Homo sapiens: one gene and its partner. The protein of the gene in region 1 interacts with the protein of each later gene in a pairwise test. Each region holds a gene or a part of one and is shown on either strand. Other genes may lie near its edges.

What was found.
Region 2: the proteins of SELENOS (region 1) and APOA5 interact in binary tests that used the Homo sapiens proteins (3 or more experiments, as listed by UniProt).

What each region holds. Positions count from the first base shown.
Region 1 is NC_000015.10:101,270,256-101,274,720, reverse strand, and holds the end of SELENOS (selenoprotein S), read left to right. Parts: intron 1-39; coding exon 40-129; intron 130-225; coding exon 226-301; intron 302-1,864; coding exon 1,865-1,944; coding exon of another isoform or gene 1,945-1,950; 3' UTR 1,951-1,957; exon of another isoform or gene 1,958-2,530; intron 2,531-3,075; 3' UTR 3,076-3,912; downstream 3,913-4,465. UniProt on the Homo sapiens protein: Involved in the degradation process of misfolded endoplasmic reticulum (ER) luminal proteins. Participates in the transfer of misfolded proteins from the ER to the cytosol, where they are destroyed by the proteasome in a ubiquitin-dependent manner.
Region 2 is NC_000011.10:116,788,668-116,796,071, reverse strand, and holds APOA5 (apolipoprotein A-V precursor), read left to right. Parts: upstream 1-4,192; 5' UTR 4,193-4,211; coding exon 4,212-4,260; intron 4,261-4,374; coding exon 4,375-4,486; intron 4,487-5,004; coding exon 5,005-5,944; 3' UTR 5,945-6,705; downstream 6,706-7,404. UniProt on the Homo sapiens protein: Minor apolipoprotein mainly associated with HDL and to a lesser extent with VLDL. May also be associated with chylomicrons.

The DNA of each region.
Region 1 (4,465 bases):
GCTTCTGAATTCTTTCTGTAAAATGTGATTGTTTCTCAGCTTGAAGAAGAAAAAAGGAGACAGAAGATTGAAATGTGGGACAGCATGCAAGAAGGAAAAAGTTACAAAGGAAATGCAAAGAAGCCCCAGGTGACTGGAGACCTCGGCCGGCTGGCATGCGGTAGATGAAGATTGCCAAGTAGAATGTTTTAATTGCTTCTTACACTACTGTGTGTGTTCAAACAGGAGGAAGACAGTCCTGGGCCTTCCACTTCATCTGTCCTGAAACGGAAATCGGACAGAAAGCCTTTGCGGGGAGGAGGTAAGCACCACTGATGTCAAATGTTAACAGATTTTCAACACTTACAGGATATAGTTACCTTTTAGGAACAAGATTGTTTGTTTCTTTGTCCATAAATTAAGACTAATTCCTTAGGATTGTGAAGATTCAATAAAGGAAACAGATGCAAATCACCTCCTAGGTCCTCACTAAGTACTTAGAAGGATTGTACTTATAGTATTCTAACTTGATCCTTCTGCAGCCCCGTAGAGGGAGAGCTAAGTAGGGTGAGGAATTGTCTGCCAATCTTCAGATGAGTGTCAAGGAGCTGGAACACAGTGGTTTTGGTCTTTCTGGCTGGGACCACCTTGTTTCTTGCAAATAACAAGGAGTAGCAGACAGATGCTCATCCAAAGCTGCTTCCTGTGTGCAGCACTGCCCCGGGGACTCTGGATGATGCCACAGCAGTCTGTCTTCATCCCATCCCTGAGAATTTCAAATCTGGGAAGATGGGACTCACAAACGAAAATAAGCAATCCTTGGTGATTCTGGCTAAGAGTTGCAAGTTACTGCTGAGGAAGGAAAGAACAAACACACTAGAACACTGTAGGAACCAAGGCGGAAGATTTTGTATCCTCCATAGGAGGAGAGGGGCACCGCAGAGGCCCTGATGGTGTCTTTGAGGACTGAGGAAAGACTGGGGCATGGGCTCCAAGGCAGCAGGGCCACAGACTTGGCTGACCTTAAACGCTGAGCTGTAATCCCCTTTGTGTCAGAAGACTAAACCTGGCTTGCTGTAGAGAAGGTGATGCATCTGGAAAGAAAATGCTATTTTTAAATGGTCCTGCCGGAAGCTTATTTTTAGACACATAGAGGTGATATTTAGGAGAGGAATGGAAATCGTAGAAGATGGAATGCAGGGTGTGCTTGCCTGCACGGCCTCTTTCAGCATCCCCAGCATTTCTGAGCTGGGACTTTTGACTAGCCTGGCTTTACAAATAAGGAAACTGAGGCACAGTGTTTAATTGCCCAAAGATTCCACTATAAGTAAGGAGTAAAAGTAACATTTAAGTTCTGGGTGGCCCTAGAACCTTAGCACTCAACCAGGTTACCAGTTGTGCACTGACTTTGGGAAGCTCATGAGGGAGTGGGGTGGTTGGGGGTAGGGAAGGATACAGAAGACCCCGTTCTGACTGGTAGAAGTGACAAGTTTGACTCTTGATTTTTTTTAATCTGTTTTCTGTAGCGTGAACAGCCCTTATTTGAATGTATGAGTTTTAGTAAGCACTGTGATAGGAGGATTCATATACTTAAATCAGGCCCTCTTGAGAGAGTTTTTTGGTGACCCTTTTGCATGTGTTTCGGAGGTTGGGACAAAGAAGCTGAATGACTTTTTTCCCCACCAGACAATCAGTTCAAATGGCAATCACAATATAAAGGTTTTTTTTTTTTTCACATAGCTAAAAGGTTTTTTTAAATGTCCCTTAGGATCTGTATCTTTGCAGTGCTTTGCGTGTCACTCTCATAATTTTATTGTGGATATACAATGTTCCCAGATTTTCAGATTTTTATCAATACTGTTGTGCTGCTTTTCTGTCCTCCCAGGTTATAACCCGTTGTCTGGTGAAGGAGGCGGAGCTTGCTCCTGGAGACCTGGACGCAGAGGCCCGTCATCTGGCGGATGAGGCTAAGAATCTTGTTAGTGTCACTTTTGACATTAGCAAGATGAACCCTTAACCCTCGATTCAATTGCCTTACGCACGCTTTTCACAGTGACTAGCCAAGGGGAGGTGGGGTTGATTTCTGTTCCTAACTACACCTGCATATGTCAGGGCTCCAGTCAGCAAAAGGTATAGATGTTGCCTCTAGGCATGAGGTCATTGGTCACATTCTACTTGGAGACAGTGATTGCATTCATTGATTTCATGGTTAATTGCTAGTTGGTAGGTAAAGGCCTCTAGATGATTAGCAATCTTGATAAAAGAGGCCTAGTAATGTTCTTTTGAGGTTAGAAATCCTTGCTGCTAGGACAGTCTCTGTGACAGGTTGCGTTGAATGATGTCTTCCTTATCAATGGTGAGCCCACCAGTGAGGATTACTGATGTGGACAGTTGATGGGGTTTGTTTCTGTATATTTATTTTTATGTACAGAACTTTGTAAAAACGAAACTATTTAAAAAACAAGAATAACATTTTTAGCATCTTTATTCAAGGAGATTTATGGACTTCAATTTGTCTATCAAACATTAAATAGCTTTTTATTACAACCTCTAACTATTACTTATTTCTCTATTTATTATTACTCACCCAAAATAAGTCTGGCAAGTGGCAGACAGCTGCCGTGATTTTGAAAGTTGACAGACTCCTTGGGGTTCATCCACAAAATTGGGTGCTTGGAGTCGAGTTGCCGAATTACTGGGATAAAGAAACATCGTGCCTCAAGGTTCCTCATAGGCTGACCAGGTTTCTACGTGACCTCTCAGTTATTCCCTTACGCCATGACTCATCTTTTACGCTCTTGTCCAGAGGCACTATCAGCAGTTTTGGATAAAGAGCCAAACAGTAAATATTTTAGACTTTACAGGCCACATATGATCTCTGTCACATAGTCTTAGGTTTTTATATTTTTAAAGGATTGTTTTTAAAAAAGATTCTCTGCTCATGGGCTGGATTTGGGCTGAATGCTGTAGTGTGTGGACCCCGTCTAGATCATCAGAAGGAAAAACATTAACCTTCAGAATAGGGGGTAATTCGCTGCAAAAGTACTATAGAATGGTCTCATACATAAATTAGTCAACATTTGTTATCTCCTGCAGGTAGAATATTCCGTGGTTGCTTCTTGACCAAGGGAAATACAGTCTGGCTGTGAGAGACTTAAAATCTCTTGAGGAGCGCTCTGGAGAATGGCTGAAGGAGAGGAAACAGGAGCCTTGAGCAGTGTAATTACAAACAAATAGGTTGGCATAGTCTTAAGTCTTTGAGTCTAGAGAGATTTGAGTTTTGTTTTGCCTGTGGAGGCAATTGGGGGTTTCAGGTCAAAGAGAGGGTCAGTGGAAACAAGGGTGGGCCTTGTGAGGTGTGGGGAAGCCCTGGGACCCTCACTCCCCTTCCAGTGTGTAACTGGATTGGCTCCCACCAGCCCAGAAGATTTACGACGTGGGAAATGGTATACTTGGATTAAAATATTTCATCCAGATTTGTTTACATCTAGAGAGAACCCCTTGTAGGTTATAAGGAAACTTTTTAACATTCTTCCTTGAATATATTTTCTGTAGCTGAAAATGTTTGTGAAGTGGCTGTCAACTACACATCGCATGAGTAGAGGGGCTCTGGGTCGGGGTTTCATATGCAGCAGAGCAGCTCCCTTGCTGCCGTCCATCAAGAGCCCTCAACACAAGAGTTTGTTATAAATAGAAATAAACGACAAAAAGTAGAGGGGTATGTTTAAGTACACTATTAGATGTGACTGACTACCTTGAAACCTGATTTTTTTCCATGGGGAGAAACAGTGCTTGAATTCTGCATGCCCCCCTTGCATCTAGCACCTTTTGGTAGGGGTGGAAGGAGGGTGTCAGGGAGAATGATTAGGAGATAATGGAGGGGAGGGGAAACTTGCGTTGTGTAATAGCATTTGAAGAGCACTTACCACGTGGCAGGAGTGTCCATTTCTGTTTGATCCCCCTAGAATCCTATGAAACGGGTATGTTACTAACCTTGGTTTTCAGAAACTGAAGCTTAGATGGGCTTAGTAACTGGTCCACAACGCTACTCGCTGTAGTCTACTTCATCCTTGTGTTCATATTAGCCAAAGGCCTTAAGTCATCAAGGTGTGGGAAGCTTCTTGCAGCTAATGAAACAGTTATGTGGCCAGGCACAGTGGCTCACGCCTGTAATCCCACCAGCCAAGATGGGTGGATCACCTGAGGTCAGGAGTTCGAGACCAGCCTGACTAATATGGTAAAACCCTGTCTCTACTAAAAATACAAAAAATTAGCTGGGCATGATGGCATATGCCTGTAATCCCAGCTCCTTGGGAGGCTGAGGCAGGAGAATTGCTTGAACGTGGGAGGTGGAGGTGGAGGTTGTGATGAGCCAAGATCGTGCCATTGCACTCCACCCTGGGCAACAAGAGCAAAACTCCATCTCCAAAAAAAAAAAAAAAAAAAAAGTTATGTGAAGTAATAATACAGTGAAAATCACATTACA
Region 2 (7,404 bases), on another chromosome or scaffold:
TTAGGACCCTGGACAGCTTTGTGGAGCAGTGCTCCCATACCAGCGTGAAGTTTTGTATGGGAGAAAACATACATTTCCAGCTTTTGTAAGCCACTGTTATTTTGGGTCTCTCTCAGAGCAGCCAAATATATAATTTAACTAATATATTTTCTTTCTGTGATTCTTCTTTATTTTGATTATACTTCTACTTCTCTGCCCCTCTTTTAGGTGGGAGGTGCTGCTCCAAGCACTAACTCAGAATATAGACCCTCTCCCTCTTGTAATAGTGCCAGCTTGGAGTTCTTTGCTTCCACTGTAGGGGAAGGAAGGAAAAAATATGGAGAACTCACATCCACTCTTCATTGTCCTCAAACAGAAGTAACCCATTTTGTTCTGCTCACAGCCCATTGGCCAGAACTAACTGTATGGCCCCAATCTAATTGCAAAGGAGTCTGGGAAGTACAGCACAGCACATGGATCTTTGGAAAGCGTTAATTTTCTCTGCCAAAGGCTTCTTTTGTTGTTGTTGTTGTTTGAAATGGAGTCCCGCTCCGTCACCCGGGCTGGAGTGCAGTGGCCCTATCTCAGCTCACTGCAACCTCCACCTCCCAGGTTCAAGCACTCCTCCAGCCTTGGCCTCCCAAGTAGCTAGGATTACAGGCGTGTGCCATCATACCTGGCTATTTTTTTTGTATTTTTAGTAGAGACAGGGTTTTACCGTGTTGGCCAGGCTGGTCTCAAACTCTTGGCTTCAAGTGATCCGCCTGCTTCGGTCTCCCAAAGTGTTGGGATTACAGGCGTGAGCCACTGTACCCGGCCAATACTGGTGTTTTCTGACCTCAGCGTTTTTCTTTTCTCCTGCCATGTACTCTCCCTAGAGATTTCATCTACTCCCAAGTCTTCCACTGCTCCTATCTGCTGATGACTCCCAAAACTCAGTCTCCAGCCGAGACTTCTCTCCTGGGCTTGAGACATATGTATCCAACTGCCAGAACATCTCCAGTGGACAGCCTTTGGGCACAAGGCCACACTAGCTTGTGGGTACAAGTAATCACCCAAAGTCAATTTCAGTGGCTCTCCACTCCCACATTTTTTCAACCCCTGGAAATGTTCCCTTCCCAAATACTCTGAGTCTCTCTTCTCTTTTCATGACTGTGGTTTTGTGACTGGATGGTAGCTCCTGTTGCTTTTTTTCCTTTCAAATGAATTTTCTCTTAGGAGGCTTCTTAGCCATTAAGCAAATAGACCTCAACTGGGCTTGCCCTATGCCTATCTGAAACCCAGCTTAGGTTCGAGTTAGGACTCCTGTTAATCTGAGCTCTCACTTCCTGTCCCAACCTGCTTATTTTTTTTGGTGAAAGAAAATATCATCCCCCTAGTTGCTCAGAAACCTGGGAATCATTGGGATTTTTTCCTCTCCTTCACCTTCCTCATCCAATCAGTCACCAAGTGCTATCAACTCTGCTGCCTTAGTAGCCCTCAATATATACTTACCTATCAACCATCACTGCTATGCCATACTTCAGGCCTTCATTTCTCACTTGGATTATTAAAATATCCCTAAATAGTTCCTCTGCCTTCTCTCTGGCCACCCTCCTGAGTGATCTCTCCATCATGTACCTTTCAGTGACTGCTTGCACAAGCCCCTTTGTGACTTGGTCATAGTCTGCTCTCTTGAACCACCAGAGCCAAGCACCTGGGTTCTGATTCTGGTTGCAACTCTTACTGCGTGATGATGGACAGGCCACTTGATCTCCTCAAACCTCAGTTCCTAAATCAAATGAATGATTGAATTCAGTCACTTAACTTTGTATGTAGTAGGTAGGCACTGTGCAAAACATACTAGTGGATATAGAGATGAATAAGAAAAAGCCCCTGCACTCAAAGAGCTCTCGGATTCATCAACAAATTATTGTGCAGTTAGATAGTAAGTGCTATAATCCAGGAATATACAGTGTTGTGTGAATAATGTGGAATCAGTTTATCTCCAGAGCAGAAAAAGGTGAAGGCCGAAGAAGGCATTCAGAGTGATACTGGAGCTGTGTAGCAGGGGCTACTACTGTTCCCTCAAATCCTTTCTTCTCTTCTTCCTGAGTAATAGAGTCCTTTTTCAGCTAGGCATACAGCCATCCAAAATAAAAACTATATTTCCCAGCCTCCTTTTCAGCTAAGTGTAGCCATGTGACTAAGTTGTGGCCAATGGGATGTCAGTACAAGTGGTAATGGCAATATCTGGGATGTGTCTTTAAAAGGAAGGAACATGTCCTTCTCCTTTTCCTCCTTCCTGTTCCCTGGGAGGTGAACTTGGTAGCTGGAGGTGAAGCAGCTGGAACTTGGATATGAGCGTCTTGTTGATGATAATAGTGCAACAAGATAAAAGCAGCCCGAGCTGGCCTACATTTACATGAGAAGGAAATAAGACTCCATTTTGTTTAAGCTATTCTCTTGCATATATATATACACATATATATCAGCTAAGTGTAGCCATGTGACTAACTTGTGGCCAATGGGATGTCAGTATGAGTGGTAAGAGCAGTATCTTGTATATATATATGTGTATATATACACACACACATATATATACATATATGTATGCAAGAATATAAAATATACATGTGTGTGTGTATATATATACACACATATATATGTCCCTTGCAGCCAAGTCTAATTCTAACTAATACAAACTAACTCTAAAAAATGAATATATATTCACCAGGGGATAGGCTATTTCAAGCAGAGGGAAGCCTGTATAAAGGCTCAGGGAATGCCGTGGTTTTATGTGGCAGCAGATGAGACTGGAAATGAGTCAGGATGAGCCACAGTGGAGGATGAATTAAATGGGCAGGAGTGTGGTAGAAAGACCTGTTGGAGGCTATGAATGCAATCAAGGTGACAGACAACTGGTGCAATGATGGTAGTGGAAATGGAGGAGAGGGGATTGATTCAAGATGCATTTAGGACCAAGAATCGGGAGCTTGTGAACGTGTGTATGAGTACTGTAGACGGAGTGGGTGTGTCATCAGAGAAGATCTGAGCATTTGGGCTTGCTCTCCTCAGAGGCCCTGCGAGTGGAGTTCAGCTTTTCCTCATGGGGCAAATCTCACTTTCGCTCCAGTTCCTGGGGCTCAGAGTCCCTGGCCCAGATGCCTCTTGCCATCTCATCTTCACCCTGCCTGGCTTCCCTTGCTTGTTCCAGGATTGTTTCATAAAGAGGGATGTGGTTGGTCTTTAACCCTATGAATGCTGGCTGAGGATGCCTGCGGAACCTGTAGTGAAGCTTTCAGGGGCTGCTCGGGTTCTGGCTGGTAGGTGAACACTGTCCATCTTGCCGGCTGGGACACAGTGACTCTGGGTAGTTGTGTAAGAGAGGGGCCCTTGGCAGACAAACAGGTTCTTCTCTGTTGGTGGGCCAGCCAGCAGGTCAGTGGGAAGGTTAAAGGTCATGGGGTTTGGGAGAAACTGGGTGAGGAGTTCAGCCCCATCCCCCGTAAAGCTCCTGGGAAGCACTTCTCTACTGGGGCAGCCCCTGATACCAGGGCACTCATTAACCCTCTGGGTGCCAGGGAAAGGGCAGGAGGTGAGTGCTGGGAGGCAGCTGAGGTCAACTTCTTTTGAACTTCCACGTGGTATTTACTCAGAGCAATTGGTGCCAGAGGCTCAGGGCCCTGGAGTATAAAGCAGAATGTCTGCTCTCTGTGCCCAGACGTGAGCAGGTGAGCAGCTGGGGCAGAGGGATGGGGGTCACAGTCCTAAGGGAGGGCATTGCAGGTGGCCTCAGGGGAGAGCCTGGGGTGGCCCCTAAGACGTCCTCTTGGAACATTTTGGCAGAGTTGCCTCTTCGCCCTCATTATGGCTCAGTTTTTCCACCATGAAATGGGAGGGAGGGAGACAGGTGGGCAGGGGAGAGGTGGTAGAAGTGGCCTAGAGAACTGTTCCTGGGGTCTGGGACCTTTGCGAAGGGGTTAGAGCACCACGCTCCCTGCTATGTGACTGAGGTAGCAAGAGCACGCCCTCTTCCCATGTCTGAGGAAGACACCCTAGCCTCCTTGACTCACCTAGGTCAGTCCTCTTGAGCCCCAACAGCTCTGTGCTCCCCAGCCCAAGGAAGGGGTAACAGGATTTCGGGCAGTTGCCCCTGCAGAGGCCCCCTGGGCAAGTCCCCTGCGCCATGTCCCTTCGTCTCCTTCTTCCCCTAACCAGGCCTCCCTCCACCTGTCTTCTCAGAGCAGGTAATGGCAAGCATGGCTGCCGTGCTCACCTGGGCTCTGGCTCTTCTTTCAGGTGGGTCTCCGACCCTGACTTCAACGTGGGGGTGTGGGTGGAGGCTGGCCAGAGGGCCCTGTCCACCCTGGGGGAGGAGAGCCCAGGCCCTGATTACCTAGTCCCTCTCCACAGCGTTTTCGGCCACCCAGGCACGGAAAGGCTTCTGGGACTACTTCAGCCAGACCAGCGGGGACAAAGGCAGGGTGGAGCAGATCCATCAGCAGAAGATGGCTCGCGAGCCCGCGTGAGTGCCCAGGGGAAGGGGTGTAGGCGAAGGGAGGAGACAGCTGGGCCATGCCATGATGACCTGCCTCTGCTGCCTCAACCTCTGTGGCCGCTGCTGGGACAGAGGAAAGGAGCGGTGCTAGCTCTGTCTGCAGATCCCGGCCATCCTGGGCTCTTTAGCGCCCTCTGCCTGCAGCCCCCGCCTTGACAACTCCGTAGCTGTTGCCCCCTTGCTCACTGAGGCGCGGGACCTGGGATCAATCGGGAGGACGCCCGCTGCAGTCCCCAGAATCAAAGGATGATGTGGCGCATCTATGTTTCTTTGGAGAGTGTTGTAGGTCTGGATTTGTATGGGCAATGTGTTTGTGCTTCGTGCGTGAGTTGTTACTGGCCAGGGCTAGGACAAGAGCCCTCGACCCTGGGGCCAACGCCCTGCGTCCTTGGTTCCCCCAGAGGATCAGTGCGCGATGACTTGGGGACAAAGGAGATGATGGAGGCTAGCAGTCTGACGGCCTGGATATCTGTCCCCTTCTCCAGGACCCTGAAAGACAGCCTTGAGCAAGACCTCAACAATATGAACAAGTTCCTGGAAAAGCTGAGGCCTCTGAGTGGGAGCGAGGCTCCTCGGCTCCCACAGGACCCGGTGGGCATGCGGCGGCAGCTGCAGGAGGAGTTGGAGGAGGTGAAGGCTCGCCTCCAGCCCTACATGGCAGAGGCGCACGAGCTGGTGGGCTGGAATTTGGAGGGCTTGCGGCAGCAACTGAAGCCCTACACGATGGATCTGATGGAGCAGGTGGCCCTGCGCGTGCAGGAGCTGCAGGAGCAGTTGCGCGTGGTGGGGGAAGACACCAAGGCCCAGTTGCTGGGGGGCGTGGACGAGGCTTGGGCTTTGCTGCAGGGACTGCAGAGCCGCGTGGTGCACCACACCGGCCGCTTCAAAGAGCTCTTCCACCCATACGCCGAGAGCCTGGTGAGCGGCATCGGGCGCCACGTGCAGGAGCTGCACCGCAGTGTGGCTCCGCACGCCCCCGCCAGCCCCGCGCGCCTCAGTCGCTGCGTGCAGGTGCTCTCCCGGAAGCTCACGCTCAAGGCCAAGGCCCTGCACGCACGCATCCAGCAGAACCTGGACCAGCTGCGCGAAGAGCTCAGCAGAGCCTTTGCAGGCACTGGGACTGAGGAAGGGGCCGGCCCGGACCCCCAGATGCTCTCCGAGGAGGTGCGCCAGCGACTTCAGGCTTTCCGCCAGGACACCTACCTGCAGATAGCTGCCTTCACTCGCGCCATCGACCAGGAGACTGAGGAGGTCCAGCAGCAGCTGGCGCCACCTCCACCAGGCCACAGTGCCTTCGCCCCAGAGTTTCAACAAACAGACAGTGGCAAGGTTCTGAGCAAGCTGCAGGCCCGTCTGGATGACCTGTGGGAAGACATCACTCACAGCCTTCATGACCAGGGCCACAGCCATCTGGGGGACCCCTGAGGATCTACCTGCCCAGGCCCATTCCCAGCTCCTTGTCTGGGGAGCCTTGGCTCTGAGCCTCTAGCATGGTTCAGTCCTTGAAAGTGGCCTGTTGGGTGGAGGGTGGAAGGTCCTGTGCAGGACAGGGAGGCCACCAAAGGGGCTGCTGTCTCCTGCACATCCAGCCTCCTGCGACTCCCCAATCTGGATGCATTACATTCACCAGGCTTTGCAAACCCAGCCTCCCAGTGCTCATTTGGGAATGCTCATGAGTTACTCCATTCAAGGGTGAGGGAGTAGGGAGGGAGAGGCACCATGCATGTGGGTGATTATCTGCAAGCCTGTTTGCCGTGATGCTGGAAGCCTGTGCCACTACATCCTGGAGTTTGGCTCTAGTCACTTCTGGCTGCCTGGTGGCCACTGCTACAGCTGGTCCACAGAGAGGAGCACTTGTCTCCCCAGGGCTGCCATGGCAGCTATCAGGGGAATAGAAGGGAGAAAGAGAATATCATGGGGAGAACATGTGATGGTGTGTGAATATCCCTGCTGGCTCTGATGCTGGTGGGTACGAAAGGTGTGGGCTGTGATAGGAGAGGGCAGAGCCCATGTTTCCTGACATAGCTCTACACCTAAATAAGGGACTGAACCCTCCCAACTGTGGGAGCTCCTTAAACCCTCTGGGGAGCATACTGTGTGCTCTCCCCATCTCCAGCCCCTCCCTCTGGGTTCCCAAGTTGAAGCCTAGACTTCTGGCTCAAATGAAATAGATGTTTATGATAGAAGTTTGCCTGGCGTGACTCTCATTTGGACCATGTCTGAAAGCAGTGGCCTCACCACTATCCCCAAAGCACACCCATCACCCACTCCATTCCCTTGCTGCTCTTTCTCATCCACCCACTCCCAGTCCAGGTCTGTCAAAGGGGGTCTGGCTGGGCTCTGCTTCAGGGATCCTGGCTAGACAACGGCTGTCTGTCACACCTGGCAGGAGGGCCTGGGTTACGGGCCCTTCCTCTGCACCTGCACTGTTCACTAGCCTGCTCCCCCACAGGACACTGTGCATGGAATGCAGGCTGTGTCTGGAAGAGCTGTGGCCCTGGTGGACCTAAGATTCCTGAGGTGGGCTGCCTCCTTTGTTCCTGCTGTTCTAGAGTTTGAATGGCCTCTTTTTATGCCGGACTCTCTTCTGGGGACTCCCCTCACTCAGGGGCACCAATGCTCCCTATAGATCCCCTGGGAACTGAAACTGGGGTGTGGTGGAGGACGTGGAAAGGGTAAACACAGCTCCTTGTCTTTGGACTTCCCTGTCCGGCCCCCTTTCCTCCCAGCTCAGCCTACTGTCCCCGGGTTCTCAGCACCTGCCTGCTCCCCAACCCCATAGCACAGACCCCACACATATGTAGGCTCATCATGCCTGCAGGCTGGTCTTCCCTGACACCGTGGATTTTGACAATGTTGGCAACAGAACTGGGTTGTGGACCCAG